Homo sapiens: one gene and its partners. The protein of the gene in region 1 purifies or fractionates together with the protein of each later gene. This does not show direct contact. Each region holds a gene or a part of one and is shown in the gene's direction. Other genes may lie near its edges.

What was found.
Region 2: the proteins of VARS1 (region 1) and EEF1D purify together in Homo sapiens (affinity purification with mass spectrometry; 6 studies listed by BioGRID and IntAct, with this or other methods). This does not show direct contact.
Region 3: the proteins of VARS1 (region 1) and EEF1G purify together in Homo sapiens (affinity purification with mass spectrometry; 8 studies listed by BioGRID and IntAct, with this or other methods). This does not show direct contact.

What each region holds. Positions count from the first base shown.
Region 1 is NC_000006.12:31,785,674-31,792,752, reverse strand, and holds part of VARS1 (valine--tRNA ligase), read left to right. Parts: intron 1-236; coding exon 237-361; intron 362-448; coding exon of another isoform or gene 449-451; coding exon 452-536; intron 537-781; coding exon 782-882; intron 883-1,015; coding exon 1,016-1,143; intron 1,144-7,019; coding exon 7,020-7,079. UniProt on the Homo sapiens protein: Catalyzes the attachment of valine to tRNA(Val).
Region 2 is NC_000008.11:143,594,405-143,601,493, reverse strand, and holds the start of EEF1D (elongation factor 1-delta), read left to right. Parts: upstream 1-4,078; 5' UTR 4,079-4,146; exon of another isoform or gene 4,147-7,089. Other genes in the region: TIGD5 (tigger transposable element-derived protein 5), read right to left, coding at 1,662-3,590.
Region 3 is NC_000011.10:62,559,085-62,563,891, reverse strand, and holds the end of EEF1G (elongation factor 1-gamma), read left to right. Parts: intron 1-3,437; coding exon 3,438-3,610; intron 3,611-3,698; coding exon 3,699-3,823; intron 3,824-4,054; coding exon 4,055-4,213; 3' UTR 4,214-4,296; downstream 4,297-4,807. UniProt on the Homo sapiens protein: Probably plays a role in anchoring the complex to other cellular components.

The sequences.
Region 1 (7,079 bases):
GGAAGGGCGAGGAGTTGGAGGATAGGGGCTTCCCTGGGGCCTTCCATGCAACTCACTTTCTTTTTTTCCTAGAAATGGCAGAATCACTGGGGCAGGGTCCTGCGGGAGAGGAGGGAGAGGGGGGAGGTCAGCATGGGCAAGACCTCGGGCATCTAAAATACCCCATCTGAAACCTAGTATGGCCGTCCAAGAGGGTCCCCAGCTGGCTGAGTCTGAATTTCTGCACCTCTCTCTAGGCCCCGAGGCTCCTGCCCTCCCAAAGACAGCTGCTCAGCTCAAGAAAGAGGCAAAGAAACGGGAGAAGCTAGAGAAATTCCAACAGAAGCAGAAGATCCAACAGCAGCAGCCACCTCCAGGGGAGGTGAGGCGAGGGTGGAGCTGGAAGGAAAGTTGATGTGTGCGGTGATGGGTTGGCTGATGCCTGGGCCTATGTCTTCTCCCTCCCAAGCAGAAGAAACCAAAACCAGAGAAGAGGGAGAAACGGGATCCTGGGGTCATTACCTATGACCTCCCAACCCCACCCGGGGAAAAGAAAGGTACTAGGAGTGGGAAGGGGCTCACCCCTCAGCAGCCCCTTCTAAGTTTTCACCCTATCTTGCTCTATTCTTGCTCTCACCACTTTGTTTGGTGAGGAATTGCAGACCCCCTGCCCTGCCTCTAGGCCCCTCAAATGCCTGTCCTATGATGTGAGTGACGGAGATCCCGATCCCTCTCTGCCAGCACGTCTCCTTCCCAGAGTGCTCCCAGCCACGGCACTGAGCCCTCCCTTCCTCTCCCCCAGATGTCAGTGGCCCCATGCCCGACTCCTACAGCCCTCGGTATGTGGAGGCTGCCTGGTACCCTTGGTGGGAGCAGCAGGGCTTCTTCAAGCCAGAGTATGGGGTGAGTAGGCACTGCTGCCCAGGCCCAGAGTGGGTGGGGTGGGGAAGGGCAGGACTGAAGGATGTGTTGCCTGGGAGGGGCTGGGAGAGGTGACCTGAGGCCTTAAACATGTGCCATCCTTCTCCACCATCAGCGTCCTAATGTGTCAGCAGCAAATCCCCGAGGTGTCTTCATGATGTGCATCCCACCCCCCAATGTGACAGGCTCCCTGCACCTGGGCCATGCACTCACCAACGCCATCCAGGACTCCCTGACTCGATGGTGAGCTTCTATCTGCACCTTCCTCTGGTTCCCTCTGCCTAGTCTGGCTCTCTCCTTTTCCCTGACAGCCCCCCGAGCCTCTCTCCTTCTGGGTTGGTGCTCACTTCTGCCCCCAGTGGTGCTACACTTCTCTCTGTCATTCCAATCTGATCATTTAGCTTCCTCTCCTAGTCCAGTACTCCCATGCAACACCGCCACTTGCAGACTCTCTTCTATCCCTTCTTTCTTTATTTAATTTTAATTTAATTTAATTTAATTTTTTGTAAAGATGAGTTTTCACTTTGTTGCTCAGTCTGGTCTCCAACTCCTGGCTCAAGTGATTCTCCTGTCTCAGACTCCCAGAGTGCTGGGATTATAGGTGTGAGGCACCACACCCAGTCTCTCCCTTCTTTTTCTAGTAACAATAACATTATTTTGAATTTAATTAGGAACATATGAATATATATATTTTTTTTTGGGGGGACAGAGTCTTGTTCTGTTGCCCAGGCCGGAGTGCAGTGACGCCATCTCGGCTCATGGCAACCGCTGCCTCCTGGGTTCAAGTGATTCTCCTGCCTCAGCCTCCCAAGTAGCTGGGATTACAGGAATGCGCCACCACAACTGACCAAAATATATGAATATATTCTTGTAAGAAATTTAAAGTTTCAAATCTCCTTGACCATCCCCCTCCACACCTACTTCCTCCTAAGATTTAGCCATTGTTATCACTTTGATGTGTATCTTCCCAGATCTTTCCTATTTACTTACATATACACGTACCCATAGAAATTTATAGTTCTCCTTTTGGGTGAGTCTTTTCTATTTTTTAACATAAAGGGTTCATATTACACTTGTTATGATCTAGCTTTCTTCTTACACTTAATACTTTCTCTTGGAGATCTTTCCTTGTCCTTACACACATACCACACATACTGACTTCCTTCTTTTTAATTGTTCCATAATATCTCATAGTGTGGCTGTACCATAGTGAAGTCATTCTTTTTTTTTTTTTTTTTTTTTTTTTTTTTGAGACAGAGTTTCACTCTTTTTGCTCAGGCTGGAGTACAGTGGCATGATCTCGGCTCACCGCAACCTCCACCTCCTAGGTTCAAGCGATTCTCTTGCCTCAGCCTCCCAAGTAGCTGGCATTACAGGCACCTGCCACCGCGCCTGGCTAATTTTTGTATTTTTAGTAGAGATGGGGTTTCACCATGTTGGCCAGGCTGGTCTCAAACTCCTGACCTCAGGTGATCTGCCTGCCTCGGCCTCCCAAAGTGCTGGGATTACAGGCGTGAGCCACTGCTCCCGGCCTGGAGTCACTTTTTAATTAATGATTCATTCTGTTTTTTGTTTTTTGTTTTTTTTCTGTTGAAAACCTTACTCTAATGCACATCCCTGTATATCAAGTTTGTCCAACCTGCAGCCTGTGGGCCACATGCGGCCCAGGACGGCTTTGAATGCAGCCTAACACAAATTTGTAAACTTTGTTTAAACATTTAAGAATTTTTTTGCGATTTTTTTTTTTTAGCTCATCAGCTATCGTTAGTGTTAGTGTATTTTTTTAAATTTATTTTTATTATTTATTTATTTATTTATTTTTTGAGACGGGTCTTGCACTGTCACCCAGGCTGGAGTGCAGTGGCACAGTCTCGGCTCACTGCAAGCTCCAAACTCCGCCTCCCACGTTAACGCCATTCTCCTGCCTCAGCCTCCCAAGTAGCTAGGACTACAGGTGCCCACCACCACGCCCGGCTAATTTTTTTTTTGTATTTTTAGTAGAGACGGGGTTTCACCATGTTAGCCAGGATGGTCTCGATCTCCTGACCTCGTGATCCGCCCGCCTCGGACTCCCAAAGTGCTGGGATTACAGGCGTGAGCCACTGCTCCCAGCCAGTGTTAGTGTATTTTATCTGTGGCCCAAGACAATTCTTCCATGTGGCCCAGGGAAGCCAAAAGATTGGATACCCCTGCTCTATATGCTTGCTGAAGCATGTGTGGAAGGGTTTCGCTGGTGTAGCTATCAAGAAGTGAAACTGCTAGGTCGGCAGGGGCACACCTATATTAAGTACAAACGGAAGCTGCCAAGTTGCCCTGCAGAATGGCTTTGCTGATTGATACCTCCAGGAATTGCTGTGAGAGTGTTCATTTCCCCACCCTTGCTAAGCCTGAGCATTAGGGTTGCCTAATTAGTTTTGCCAATCTGATGGGCAAAAAAATACCTCTGTTGTTTTACTTTGTACCTTTCTGATTGCTATTGAAGTTGTGCCTATTTTCATGTTTTTTGGCCAGTCAGGTTTACCCATATGTGAATTGTCTGTATCTATCTTTTCCCCGTTTTTCTATTGATTCTTCGTTCTTTTTCTTTTTAATTTTTTTTTTGAGAATTCTTTACCTGTTCTGGGTATCAATTTTTTTGTTAAATATTGTAAATGTTTTTGTTGTATTATTGTGTGGTAGTTTTCCTGTTAATTGTAAATGTTTCTCCTGTTTTCTGTTACTATTTGTTTTCACTGTTAATATTTTAATTAGTGATAAATACAAAGTAATATTCTAGGTGACAAATCTTTTTAAAAAGTATTTTAAAATAACTTTACCATTTTTGGAAACCAGGGTTTATTATATTTAAATTTTGAGAATTTTTTCTGGTGTCTTATGTACTAAATTAATGTGGTCAAAAAATATTTACTGGGCCCAACTATGTGCCACCTCTGCTCTGAGCACTGGGAATATAATGTTTGATTGTGCATTTTGCAAGTAACTGAGAGCTAGGAAAACAGTTATATGTTTTATTTTTTTATTTTTATTATTATTATTATTATTTTGAGACAGAGTCTCTCTCTGTCGCCCAGGCTGGAGTGCGGTGGCGCAATCTTGGCTCACTGCAAGCTCTGCTTCCCAGGTTCACAGCATACTCCTGCCTCAGCCTCCTGAGTAGCTGGGACTACAGGCGCCCGCCACCACGCCTGGCTAATTTTTTGTATTTTTTTTAGTAGAGACAGGGTTTCACCCTGTCGGCCAGGATGGTCTCGATCTCTTGACCTCATGATCTGCTCACCTCGGCCTCCCAAAGTGCTGGGATTACAGGCGTGACCCACCGCGCCTGGCCTGTTTTTTTTTTTGTTTTTTTTGTTTTTTTGAGACAGAGTCTCTCTCGGTTTCCCAGGCTGGAGTGCAGTGATGCGCGCTTACTGCAACCTCTGCCTCCTGAGCTCAAGCGATTCTCCTGCCTCAGCCTTCTGAGTAGCTGGGATTACAGGCGCATGCCACCACACCTGGCTAATTTTTGTATTTTTAGTAGAGACGGGGTTTCACCATGTTGGTCAGGCTTGTTTCGAGCTCCTGACCTTGTGATCCTCCCGCTTCGGTCTCCCAAAGTGCTAGGATGACAGGCATGAGCCACTTCGTCCAGCCAACAGTTCTGTTAAATACACATAACATACAATGGCCAAGTTGTTTGCGTTTGTGTTTGCGTTTTTGTTTTTTCAATTTTTCAATTTTTTTTTTTTCTTTGGAAATGGGGTCTTGCTCTGTCACCCAGGCTGGAGTGCAGTGGCGCAGTCTCTGCTCACTGCAAGCTCCTCCTCCCAGGTTCACACCATTCTCCTGCCTCAGCCTCCTGAGTAGCTGGGACTATAGGAGCCCACCACCACGCCTGGCTAATTTTTTTTGTATTTTTAGTAGAGACGGGGTTTCACCGTGTTAGCCAAGATGGTCTCGATCTCCTGACCTCGTGATTCGCGTACCTCGGCGTCCCAAAGTGCTGGGATTATAGGCGTGAGCCACCACGCCCGGCCCTGTTTTTCAATTTTTTAATAAAATCAAGAGAGGGTCTCGCTATGTTGCCCAGGCTGGTCTTGAACTTCTGGGCTCAAGCAATCCTCCTGCCTCAGTCTCCCAAAGTGCTGGGACTACAGGCATGAACCACCATACCTGGCCTCCAAGTTTGTTTACATGAAAACAGAATGACTACTTTTTTTTTTTTAATTGAGACAGAGTCTCGCTCTGTCGCCCAGGCTGGAGTGCAGTGACGCGATCTCGTCTCACTGCAACCTCAACCACTTGGGTTCAAGCGATTCTTGTGTCTCAGTCTCCTGAGTAGCTGGGACTACAGGCACGCACCACCACGCCCAGCTAATTCTTTTGCATTTTTAGTAGACAGAGTTTTGCCATGTTGGCCAAGCTGGTCTTGAACTCCTAACCTGAAGTAAGCCGCCTGCCTCGGCCTCCCAAAGTGCTGGGATTACAGGTGTGAGCCACTGTGCCTGGCCACATACTTCTTATAAAACTCTTAAGGTAGCCACATTTTTTTTCCAGTGAACGTGGTTTAAATAAAATGTGAGACACTCCCATTACTTTAATGGAATAGAGTTATATCAACTTTTTATTTTTATTTATTTGTTTATTTATTTATTTTTGAGACAGAGTCTCTCTCACTGTGTTGGCCAGATTGGAGTGCATCGGCATGATCACAGCACAATCATAGCTTGGTGCAGCCTCAACCTCAGCCACCCAAGTAGCTGGGAACAAAGGTGCACGCCACCATGCCTGGCTTTTTTTTTTTTTTTTTTGCAGAGACTAGGTCTCACTATGTTGCCCAGGCTAGTCTGCAACTCCTGGGCTCAAGCAGTCCTCTCACCTTGGCCTCCCAAAGTGTTGGGGTTATAGGCTTGAGCCACTGTGCCTGGCTTGAATTCTTTAATCTATCTAAAGTTTCTTTTTGTGACTATTGGTAAGGGGGAGATTTTTTCCAAATAATTAGCTAGTTGTTTCAAACATTTTGAATAGTTTATCCTTATTTTACTGATAGGAAGTGCCAACTTTCACAAACACTAAATTTGCTTGTATCTGTTTCCAGGTACTATTTTGTTCCTGTTTAGTAACTTATTTTAACAATTAGAACTTTTGCTATCCTGTTTGGCAGGAGCCTCCTCTTCGTTCTTTTTTTTTTTTTTTTTTTTTTTTTTTGAGACAGAGTCTCACTCTGTCATCCGGGCTGGAGTGCAGTGGCACAATTTCAACTCACTGCAACCTCCCCCTCCCAGCTTCAAGCGATTCTCGTGCTTCAGCCTCCCAAGTAGCTGGGATTACAGGTATGCACCACCATCCTGGCTAATTTTTATATTTTTGGTAGAGACAGGGTCTTGCCATGTTGGTCAGGCTGGTCTCGAACTCCTGTCCTCAAGTGATCCACTCGCCTTGGCCTCCCAAAGTCCTGGGGTTACAGGTGTGAGCCACCACGCATGCCTGTCTTTGTTCTTTTTCCATATTGCCTTGGCTCTTCCTTCAAATCTTTTCTCCTTGACTAGCTTTAGAATCACAAGGGTTCCAGCTCCACCCCTGCTTCTTTCTTTTTTTTTTTGTTTGTTTTTTGGAGACGGAGTCTCACTCTGTCACCCAGGCTGGAGTGCAATGGCATGATCCCAGCTTGCTGCAACCTCTGCTTCCCGGGTTCAAGCAATTCTCCTGCCTCAGCCTTCCAAGTAGCTGGGATTACAGGCACATGCCACCACGCCCAGCTAATTTTGTATTTTTAATACAGACAGGGTTTTACCATATTGGCCAGGCTTATCTTGAAGTCCCCACCTCAGGTGATCCACCCACCTCGGCTTCCCAAAGTGCTGGGATTACAGGCGCATGCCACCATGCCCAGCTAATTTTGTATTTTTAGTAGAGACGGGGTTTTACCATGTTGGCCAGGCTCATCTCGAACTCCCCCACCTGAGGTGATCCACCCACCTCAGCCTCCCAAAGTTCTGGGATTACAGGCGTGAGCCACCGCGTCCGGCCTCCCTGCTTCTTTATTTAGTCCACTGACTCCTTGCCTGAAGCCTCTGCTTTCTTTGGTGCCAGGCCCCACTGGCCTGGCTCACCCTCTGGTCCTCCATGCCCCCTAACAGGCACCGCATGCGTGGGGAGACCACCCTGTGGAACCCTGGCTGTGACCATGCAGGTATTGC
Region 2 (7,089 bases), on another chromosome or scaffold:
GCAGGCCTGGCAGAGCAGAGGTGGTGTCCCCGCCTTGGGGGCCTGTGCCCCTGGGAAGGTGCTGGCCCAAATGTCTCAGGCTTTCTGCAGCCCATCCCCAGCAGTTCAGGCCAGAGGCTCTTCCTGCAGGTGGCGGTGGCCTGATGGGCTCAGCAGGCATGCCTGGAGCTGCTGCCCTGAGCTCTGCTCAGGGAGTCTGTTTCTTCTTCCCCAAATTTCCACGGCCTCCCTGAGCTCTCAGATTTTGAGATATAGATATATACATATATATGTATATATTTCTTCACTTGCGGGCAGTTCCAAGGAACTGTTTGTTCCTGGACCTGTATAAAGGTCACTTTTGGGGGACACCCTCCAGCTGCCCCACTGCCAAGCTGGTGCACAGCCCTTCCCTTCCCCGTGCAGGCCTCCAGCCTACCCCTGCACTCCACAACTCTGGGTTTTCAAGGTTCCCTCTCCTAGGAGGACACTGGGGGCAGATGGGGACGAGGGGTCAACACCTGGAGGCAAGCAGGCCAGCTCCCTGCCCCTCACACCAGCTCGGGCAGCATCTCTGCAAAGGCAGTTCCCACCCTACCTGAGGAGGCATGGGCATCCCTGGCCCCAGTCCAACCAGAAGGACTGTAGGTCTAGACCTGGCCAGAGCAGAACAGAACCAGGGTTTGACAGGCCCTGGGGCCCTTTCCTCCTTTCAAAGTAGGCCTCCCAGGAGCAGCTTGTCAGCCACATCCTTGGCAGTCCCAGGAGAGGCAGAAAAGTCTGAGGGTGGGGAGGAGAGCCCACAGAGGGTGGCACTGCGTATTGCCCTGGGGGCTAATGCCAGGGCCTGCTTCCAGGTAAGTCAGGTGGCTCCAGGCCCTGGGACTGGACAGAATGGTCTGTGGCTGATGAGGAAGCAGGGGAAACTCTCCTGCCGTTGGCCAAGTCACCAGGGCCCAAAGCCAGGCAGCTGCCAATCCCACGGAATAAGAGATCTGTTCAGTTTTCTTAGGGAAAACTAAAAATCCAAGGAAACGGAACTCTACACCTCCCTGCTGCACCCAGAACCTAATACAGGGCTCCACCCCTCCCACTCCACAGTGATGCTCCAGTACCTGGGGCCTCTGACCTCCAGAGAAACCGCAGGGCGGCCCGAGACCAGCCCACCCGGCCCCTGTTCTCACGGCCCCTCTGAAGAGTATCTTTAAAAACAGATTTAATGTGTTAAAAAAAAATAGAATCAAGTGGTGTGCTTCGCCACTGAGATGATTGTGCTGTGGCTCCGGGGCCACATAGCACCAGGGCTCGATAGCAGACAGGAGTTTCGGCCCTCGTCCAGTGCATGTGACTGGTGCAGGGGCGGAGGCCCAGCCCCACGGGGGCCAGAGCAGGAACACAGCCACCTGTTCCAACAGGCGCTGTGCCTTGTATGCCCCGTACATGTGCCTGCCCTGAGAGGAGCATGGGCCAGGCCTCTCTTCCAGCTGTGCCCCCAGGGTGCCAGTGAGGCAGGGCGACCTCTCACCAACAGAGCTCCTCCAAGCCATGCTGGATTTGGATTCCTGGAACCCCCTGTACCCATGCGGTGGGCCACCCCAGGGGGAGGGGAGGAGAGATGGGAGACTGTGTGTATGTCCCCTCCCTCCAAGTGCAGCAGGAGAAAGGTCACTGGGCTGGCCTGGTCACACACCGTCATAGGGGCCTGCTGGGGTATGCCCGATGCCCCCCAGCCTCCGGGCCATGCTGATGAGTGAGCGCAACTGCACCAGCCTCAGTGGCCCCACCTCTCTGGGGTCCTGGTTCTCCAGCCACCGCAGAGCTGTTTCTAGCCCCCGCACGGCCTCCCCGGCAGTCGGCACTGAGGTCCCTCCATAGTCGGTGGCCTCCTCCTCGTCCTCTCCGCCCCCCATGGCAGAGGGCAGACTGGCTGGGGCCGGAGGCGCTGCAGGGGGCAGGGCTGGGCCCACCTCCTCCCTGCAGCCCTCGGGCGGACCCCCATCATCGTCCAGGTGCAGCCACTCCGCAACCTCCTCCGGAGCCAGGCACTTGTAGGCCAGAGCCGCCAGGTGGGTGAGGTCGCTGAGCACCCTGCTGTGCTCGGCGGCTTCCTCGGCCTGGGCCGGCTGCCCAGCACTGTCCTCGCCGGGCCGGGGCTCGAAGGCAGCCCGCAGGCCCAGCAGCCAGCAGCGCTCAATGCTGCCCGCCTGCACCAGGTCCCAGGAGAGGCCAGCCAGGTAGAGCATGTCCTTGAGCATGAAGCTGCGCATGAAGTCCAGCGGGGAGCCGCTGGCGCAGGACACAGCCAGTCGCAGCAGCTCGCGCTTGTACAGCTGTTTGAAGGCGGCCACCACGCCCTGCTCCAGCGGTGCGGGGATATGTGCCCGGCTGCTGCCTTTGGACAGGAACAGCACCCGCACAGCGCCATCCGGTGTCTGCAGCTCCTCCGGGGGACCGAGGGGCTCCGGCCTGCACCGCACGGGGGCATCCTCGCTGTCCAGGGCGGGCATACTGGCAGCTGGGCTTGGGCAGGGCGGGTGGGCCACCAGCAGCACGGCCTTCTGCTGCAGGCAGCTTCGGCGCAGGTAGCGTTTGACGCCTGGGACAAATTCCTCAAAGAACCAGCCCCGCAGCAGCGGGCGGCTGAGCCAGGCGTCGGGGCTGTAGCGGTAGGAGGCCGGGAACTTGTCCTGGTTGTGGTGGCGCAGGCTGGGCGGGTCCGGCAGCCGCCCGATGACCAGCGGCTTCAGCTTGTGGCTGCCGGTCAGGTTTGCGGCCAGCAGCACCGTTACGCGGTCGCCCCGCCAGCGCCGGCCACAGCCCCCCGCCCCGGGGTCCCCTGCGCCCGGGGGCGCAGCCTGCTCCGGAAGCAGCTTCCAGTAGAGGCCGGTGACGCTGGCGCTGTAAATCTGCTCGTCCCCGTAGCCGCCCTCGGCCGGGGGCGGCGGGGCCGGGGCGCGGTCGGGCAGGGGGCCGGCGCCGGAGGGCAGCGCGGGCTCCTCCTTGACGGGCGGGCCGGGCGCGGGGCTCGGGGCTGGGGGCCCGGCCTCGCCGTAGAAGCGCTGGCTGGAGATGCCGTGGCGCTTCTGCCAGCGCCAGAACCAGCCGTGGCTGGCCTTGAAGGTGCACTCGGGCCCGTAGATCTGGCGCGCGAAGGCCTCGGCCTGCGCCTGGATGAGCGGGCCAGACAGCGGCACCCCGTGCTGGCGCAGCGCCAGGAACCAGGCGTACACGGCGCGGTCGATCTCCTCCTCGTTGGCCAGCCGCATCTTCTTGCGCTGAGTGCCCACCTCACCGCCCAGCTGCTCCAGGAACCAGCGCAGCTTGGGCTCGTCCTTGAGCCAGCCGCGCAGCGTCCCGCCCGGCACGCCGAAGTCGCGGCACACACTGGCCTGCCGCTCGCCGCCCTTGACGCGCTCGATGGCCTGCAGCTTGTCCTTGATGGAGTAGGCCTTGCGGAAGGCCATCTTCACGGCCACGCGGGGCCGCGGCCCGGGCGCGGGGGGCGGCGGCCGTGCAGCGGGGACGGGGGCTGGGGCGGGCGCGGGGGGCCCGGGCAGGGGACGGCGGCCGCGGCGCGGTACCGGGCCGGCCGGGGGGCCCGCGGGGTACATGGCTGCGGCGGGGGGGACCCGGGCCGCGCGGGTCGCGGGAGCCACACGCCCAGCCGCTCGGGGCGGGGCACTCGGGGGCGGGGCCGCACGGGTCCCTCCCCTTTGTCCCGCAGCTTGGCGGGCGCACGCGCGCTGACCTAGCCCGGCCCGGCCCCGCCCCGCGCCTGCGCGCTGGCCGCCTCGTGCGTCACTCGGCGCTTGCCGGCTGCCGGACCCGCCCCCACCGGCGACACCACTGGCCGCGAAGCGCAGGGGGGGCGCGCGCGCTGCCGCCCGTTCCCAGCACTTGTGCAGACTCCTCCGGGGAAGAGCGGCCTCCGCGGTCATCTCCAACGGAATTCTGCCTTTGAAGTGTCGGGGCACGGCGCGTCGAGGGTCCTGGCGGCCAGGCGGGGCGTGTGCAAGGGTCGCGTCCCCCCCCCGGGCCCCCGGCCCGTGGCTCTTGGTAGAGCCCAGTGCTTCATTTCCCGTGCGCGGCCCGGGCGGCCCTCCCTTTCATCAGTCTTCCCGCGTCCGCCGATTCCTCCTCCTTGGTCGCCGCGTCCTTGGCTGGCGTGTGAGTACCGCGGCCCCCGCCGGAAGGAGTCGGGCGCGACAGAGACGCCCGAGGGGCCGGGAGGGCGGGCGGCCCGGGCTGCGCCAGAAGCTCGCGCCGTTAGGGACTGAGGCACAAGTGCGCCAGCGCGGGCTTAGGGGCCGTGGGCCAAGTGCGGCACTTGGGGCGAGCGCAGAGAGGCGGGGCGACGGAGGCCACGTGGCCGGCTTGGAGGGCGTCCGCGGGACGGGGGCGCCGGGAGCACTGTCTCACGGCGCATCCCGGTCGTGGAAGCCCCTCGGCCAGGCTGCTGGGGCCTAAGGCCTGTGTTTGCTGCCGTCTCCGTGGGAGACCAGACATCTGCCCCAGCTGTTTCTCTGGCCTGCAGACCTTCGTACACCACGTCTTTGTCAAGCACCAGTTACTGCACGCATCAGCTGAGCACGGAGGGGATAGGCACGGACGCAACACTTTTGGAACTTAGACGCTAGTGAGCACGGAAAGGAATAAGCCTGTACTGTGACTGGGTCAAAATTTCTGTCTCTTGATTTGGATAGGGTGGTCGGGCAGTCTCTGAAGGGGGCGGGGATGCTGTTGCTAAGAAGTAGTACTTTCAGAGGCTTTAAGTGGAAGGAAGAAGGCAAAGGGGGCGGAGTGGGTTGGGGACCTGATGAGACGTCAGGATTGGTTTCCAGAATGAAGGACCGCCTGGCAGCAGAAGAACTGTGTAGCTAAACTTGGGGTTGTCCCTGCCCGACAGGGCGGGGTGCTTCTTAAGTTGACACTGCCTGCGGCTCACCTCCCAGGGAGGCAGGCCAGGCCATCTCACCTGAGCAGCCTCCTTCTACAGCTCCGCCCACCCCGTCATCTGGACCCCATGAGCCTTAAGCAGCTGGCTCGCAGGCAGTTGGTTACTTCCGGAGCCCGTGTGTGCCCAGCCCCGTTCTGGGGGTGGGGGATGCAGCTGAGGGGCTGGGCAGGTGTGGAAGGAGCCCCCGAGCGTCCTCTGAGGAAGTAGACGCTCACCTTCGCCTTCTCACCACATGCCTCAGGCCCAGCCAGGCTCCTAGACCTGCCTCTGTAGAGGCTTTCTGGGCGCAGTGCCAATCCTGTGAGACAGCAGCATCTCCCCTGGGCTGCTGCAGGGTTCACACGCAGTCAGTGCTGGCAGAGTGAGCGCCCAGCCGACAGAGCCCCCGCTGCCTCCCGCCTCCTCTGGAGGACTAGGCCCTCTGGGCTTTGCTCCCGGGTTGCTGGGTGAGGCTGCAAGGTTTAGCACAGGTGGGCACACGTGCTTGATGATGGACAAAGAGTACCTGGGCTGTGCCGTGCACTGGCGTCAGCCTTCTGGGGGCTGAGGACAGGAAATGTGGCATTGAGGATTTGTGGGTCATCATCCTGTGCCAGTGTGTTAAGGTGACATCAGCGTGTTGGAAGCTGGTGGCAGTGAGTTATGCTAAGTGCTGGTGTAGGAGCCTGCCACAGGTCTCCAGCTCTCCCACCTCGCTGACAGCCAAGGGTGCCGTGTGAGGTGTGGCGTGGGTATTGTCTGGGGTTCCAGAAAGCCTGTGCCGTGCTGGAGTCACCCAGGAGGCACAGGGGCTGCGCCGGGCAGGCAGGTCGGCCAGAGCCCCTCAAGCAGGGCTGGCCATGGAGCTGGCCTGCAGTGGCATTTAAGAAAAGACGTGGTTGGGGCGGGGCTTGGCCTGGGGCAGGGTGGGTTGGGTAGCTACAGTGAGTGCTCTGAGATATGCAGGACAGGCTGGCGTTTCCCAGTGGGGCTGGAATATCCAGGGGTCAGACAGGAAAGTGGCTGAGTGGGAATGTGGAACTGTGGAGTTTTTTCTCTTAAAAAGACCAAAGGCGGCTGGGCGTGGTGGCTCATGCTGGTGATCCCAGCACTTTGGGAGGCCGAGGCAGGCAGATCATGAGGTCAGGATATCGAGACCATCCTGGCCAACATGGTGAAACCCCGTCTCTACTAAAAATACGAAAATTAGGCTGGGCGCATGGCTCATGTCTGTAATCCCAGCACTGTGGGAGGCCAAGGCAGGCAGATCACCTGAGGTCAGGAGTTCGAGACCAGCCTGGCAAACATGGTGAAACCCCATCTCTACTAAAAATATGAAAAAATAGCCAGGTGTGGTGGCACACGCCTGTAATCCCAGCTACTTGGGAGGCTGAGGTAGGAGAATTGCTTGGACCCGGGAGGTGGAAGTTGCAGTGAGCTGAGATCGTACCACTGCACTCCAGCCTGGTGACAGAGTGAGGCTCCGTCTCAAAAAAAACCCAAAAATTAGCTGGCCGTGGTTGCGCATGCCTGTAGTCCCAGCTACTTGGGAGGCTGAGGCAGGAGAATCGCTTGAACCGGGGAGTTGGAGGTTGCAGTGAGCCAAGATCGCGCCACTGCACTCCAGCCTGGGTGACAGAGTGAGACTCCGTCTCAAAAAAAGACCGAAGGCCTCACTCCACGCAGGAAGACATTGATCTGTCCTGTGGCTGCTCTGCCGTGCGGTGGTTTTGCCTAAAGACCCGCTTCCTCAGGGGCTCCAGCCTCTTTTAAGGGCTAGTCGTCGCGCCCTTTGGGCACTGAAGGTACTGAAAGTTCTATCAGGCAGTGCCAGTCCACAGACTCAGGCCAGCCAGGTGGGCCGGAGAGGGGTGCTGCTGGGAGGGGTGGGCGTGCACAGGCTGAGCCGGTGGCTGACCCCGTCCCCTGCCCACCTCCCTGACTTCTCCCTGTGGAGGGTGGACAATCTGGGAGCCTGTCTGTGTGTGCGACTGTGATGGGGTGGCGTGGAGGGCAGGGCCTGGGAGCCAGCTCCTCCCAGAAAGCTTCCGTTTGCCCAGATGTGTGGAGACCTCCAGGCCGTGCAGCACCTTGGTGGCCACAGCTCTCCAGGATGTCCTCACCTTCCTCAGGGCCCTGCCCTCCTGACCTGGAGTGTTCTGGGTAGGAGTCTG
Region 3 (4,807 bases), on another chromosome or scaffold:
AGGTTTTAAGGCTCCTCAGATGAGGTCTCTTATGCATTTGGAAAGGAACCTGGGACCTAGGGTTAAAGGACAGATCCTCTGCTTTGCTACAGTGTAATCTTGGACAGGTCATTCTACTTGGTCTCATCTGTAAAGAGAGGGGAGGGTCAGGGTAACAGTTGATAACTCATGGGTTATAAGGATTGAGTGAAATTGGAATACTCATGGCAATATTTATGCTATGAACAATAGAACCAACTAAACATTCAGTTTAATATTCAATGTTTAGTAGATTTATGGCACAATCCTGCATTAGAAGATTGTTTGGCCATTAAAATGTTTGCAAAGAATTCTGTTTTTGAGGTAGGGTCTTGCTATGTTGCTTAGTCCGGTGTCCAACTCCTGATCTCAGGTGGTCCTTCTACCTCAGCCTCTTGAGTAGCTGGGACTGCTAGTGCAAAAAATTGTTTTGTTTTAGGCTGGGCGCGGTGGCTCACGCCTGTGATCCCAGCACTTTGGGAGGCTGAGGCGGGTGGATCACGAGGTCAGGAGATTGAAACCATCCTGGCTAACACGGTAAAAATACCGTCTCTACTAAAAATACAAAAAGTACAAAAAATTAGCCGGGGGCGGTAGCAGGCGCCTGTAGTCCCAGCTACTCAGGAGGCTGAGGCAGGAGAATGGCGTGAACCCAGGAGGCGGAGCTTGCAGTGAGCCGAGATTGCACCACTGCACTGCAGCCTGGGCAACAGAGCTAGACTCCGTCTCAAGGAAAAATAAAAAAAAAAGGATTGTTTTGTTTTTTTGACAGGGTCTTGCTCTTCTCCCAGGCTGGAGTGCAGTGGTGTGATCTCGGCTCACTGCAACCTCTGCCTCCCGGACTCAAGCAATTCTCTTGCCTCAGCCTTCTGAGTAGCTGGGATTACAGGCGTGAGCCATGGTGCCCAGCTCCCAGCTAATTTTTAAATTTTTTTGTAGAGACAGTGTCTCGCTATATTTCCCAGGCTGAAAGAATTCTTAACAGCATGGATAGGATGTCCAGTAACAACAAAGTATAAGCACAAAACTGCATATGTCATGGCTACATCTTTGAAAAATCAAAGGCTGTAGGAAAATACATAAAAGATTATCCTGGGCTGGGCACGGTGGCTCATGCCTGTAATCCCAGCACTTTGGGAGGCCGAGGCGGGCGGATCACGAGGTCAAGAGTTCAAGACCAGCCTGACCAACATAGTGAAACCTCGTCTCTACTAGAAATACAAAAATTAGCTGGGCGTAGTGGCACGTGCCTGTAATCCCACTACTTGGGAGGCTGAGGCAGGAGAATCGCTTGAACCCGGTAGGTAGAGGTTGCAGTGAGCCGAGATCGCACCACTGCATTCCAGCCTGGGTGACAGGGCGAGACTCCATCTCAAAAAAACAAAACAAAAAAAAGATTATCCTCTTGTTGGCATTATAGGTGATTTTCTTCAGTCAGCATATATATATATATGTGTATGTATATGCACACACACACATATATACACACACATGTTGTACCTGAGCGAGTTAGAGAAAACGCCACACTTTGAGACGAATTAAGAGTCCTTTATTAGCCGGCAACCAAGAGACGGCTAACGCTCAAAAATCTCTCGGCCCTGAGGAAGGGGCTTGACTAACTTTTATACCTTGGTTTAGGAAGGGGAGGGGAACTCAAATGCAATAATTTTACAGAGGTAAAAACATGCAAGAATCAAAAGAAGCAAAATGGTTACAGAGAGATAAACAATTTAAAAGACAAATGGTTACAAAAAGCAACCGTACCAGGTGCAGGGCTCTAAATCCTTCATTATAATTAGATATGGGGCTATGCGGGACACAACTCAAGGCTTTATGTTGTTATCACTTTGAGAAAAATCCTGGGAACTTCATACATTGTTTGTGCCAGTACCTTATCAGTTAATTGGGCTCCTTTGAAATGCTGAGGATCTGCTTAACACAGGTCAACTCCTTGTGGAAGGGGGTTGGGTGAGGAGCCCTTAGTGTCTTGTAAATTAAAGGGTCAATTGGAGTTTGTCCGGCTTTCCCAGCTAGAGAGAGAGTCTTATTTACATGAGAAGCAAGGCTAGGTGGTTAAAGAGACAAACAGGGAAGATTCAAAGTAGTGAGTTAGAGTAAAAACAAGGTTAGGCATTTAACACATGTATGCACACACACATATATGTGTTTTTTGGTTGTTTTTTTTTTTTTTGTTTTTTTTTTGTTTTTTTTTTGAGACGGAGTCTTGCTCTGTTGCCAGGCTGGAGTGCAATTTCGGCTCACTGCAGCCTCTGTCTCCTGGGTTCGAGCAAGTCTCCTGTCCCTGCCTCCCGAGTAGCTGGGACTACAGGCGTGTGCCACCAATTTTTTTTTTTTTTTTTTTTAGTAGAGATAGGTTTTCACCATGTTGGCCAGGATGGTCTTGATCTCTTGACCTCGTGATCCGCCCGCCTCGGCCTCCCAAAGTGTTGGGATTACAGGTGTGAGCCACCCTGCCTGTCCTTTTTTTTCCCCCCAGACAGGACTCTTCCTCTATCGCCCAGGCTGGAGTGCAGTGGCGCGATCTCTGCTCACTGCAACCTCTGCCTCTCGGGTTCAAGCTATTCTCCTGTCTCAGCCTGCCACCACGCCCAGCTAATTTTTGTATTTTTAGTAGAAACGGGGTTTCACCTTGTTGGTCAGGCTGGGCTTGAACTCCTGACCTGAGGTGATCCACCTGCCTTGGCCTCCCAAAGTGCTGGGATTACAGGCGTGAGCCACCGCATCTGGCCAGTGTATATGTTTATAACTGGAAAGAAAGAAAACAGAGCACCAATCGTGGAGGGAGTGACCTCTGCTATATTGATGCTGGCATTCTTGGCTCAGTATGCCAGATTGCTTTTAAGATAACCTGAACCTAAGGGCTTTCCAGCATCGGAAAACCTTGGAAAAGACTAAAGCTTGTTTATAGGCAGAGATGGACTAAAGGACATGGGTGTAAGATTTGGGGTGGAGGCCCTTTGAGAATGTTCACTGCTTACATTCCTGTTACAGCTTGTGTAACCTGAAGAGGCCTGTATGGTGGGGGGGAAGAGACTTGGGTGAGTCAGTGACTTAGTGTGGTTCATGGAAAACAGCCTGGGGAGGGCCTGAACAGGGAAAAAGAAGTCCTCACTCTGTCTCCACCTGGGGGCAGCAGTTAGCCATGCCCTTCCTGGGGCAGGTCTCAGAGTCCCACTTTGAGTTCCACCCTCCACATGCCTTGCATACTTATGCAGAGGAGTGTCCTAGGCCCCTGTTCAAACCCCTTGAGCTTACTTCCCTCATAAGGTCATACACATCTGCCAGCACAATGACCATTTCCTTTATATTAGTAAATTTTAAGTGAAAGCACCCTTCACTTCTCTTAGCCTGGCAACCTTCCTCCTTATTGATTGACCCCTGTGCTTTCTTCCTCTTAGTACCTTTGTGTTGGATGAATTTAAGCGCAAGTACTCCAATGAGGACACACTCTCTGTGGCACTGCCATATTTCTGGGAGCACTTTGATAAGGACGGCTGGTCCCTGTGGTACTCAGAGTATCGCTTCCCTGAAGAACTCACTCAGACCTTCATGAGCTGCAATCTCATCACTGGTAAGAGAGTGGGTCTGAGAAGGAAGGAGAACAAGGTGTAGCAAGTGCTGTGATTCCAAAGGCTGAATGTTCTCCCTTGCCGCTTCAGGAATGTTCCAGCGACTGGACAAGCTGAGGAAGAATGCCTTCGCCAGTGTCATCCTTTTTGGAACCAACAATAGCAGCTCCATTTCTGGAGTCTGGGTCTTCCGAGGCCAGGAGCTTGCCTTTCCGGTGAGGAAGGTGGAGGAGAGGAGTCTCTTTAGGGTGGGGCAGGGATATAAGAAGCACTGTGTTTTATTTCTGAGTTGATGGATGTTTAGGAGGGTTCAGGAATGCTTATAGGAAGGAGCAGTTCATGTTCACAGGAGACCTGGGGTCTGATGACATGTGTTTGAGCTGGAAGTAACACAGGTGTGGGGTGGTGTCTCATAACTTGACCACATGCTGGCTTTTTATCCCCAGCTGAGTCCAGATTGGCAGGTGGACTACGAGTCATACACATGGCGGAAACTGGATCCTGGCAGCGAGGAGACCCAGACGCTGGTTCGAGAGTACTTTTCCTGGGAGGGGGCCTTCCAGCATGTGGGCAAAGCCTTCAATCAGGGCAAGATCTTCAAGTGAACATCTCTTGCCATCACCTAGCTGCCTGCACCTGCCCTTCAGGGAGATGGGGGTCATTAAAGGAAACTGAACATTGAACCCTTTCCTGTCCTGCCTCCTTTGTGAGTGGTGGCGTCTTCAAGGGGAGTAGATATGTTGAAGCAGGGTACTTTCTGTGTTCGCAGTACCTCGATATGCAGGAGAGAAGACTTCAGAAGAACAGAAATAGAGGCCTGTGTTCACTTGTGATTTTAATTACCCTGCCTCCTACGGTGATGACTGTCTTCTAGCTGGGAAAGAGCGGAAGCAGTTGGGGCGGGTAGTGACATGGGGCTTTGTGACTACCTAATTCTTAGGGATCAGATTCCAGGCCTTTCCCAGTGAAGGGAGAGAATAGCTGCTAATAACAAGAGCTAACGTGTATAATTCACAGAGCGCAAAGGAACTTTACATTATTTCCTGTAACTGTCCTGTGAGGTAGGTAGCTGACAATATGCAAGGGTTGTAGTTTCTTTTTCTTTTTTTTTCTTTTTTTTTTTCAGACAAGGTCTGGCTCTGTTGCCCAGGCTGGAGTGTAGTGGTGCAGTCTCAGCTCAACCTCTGTCTCCCAGGCTC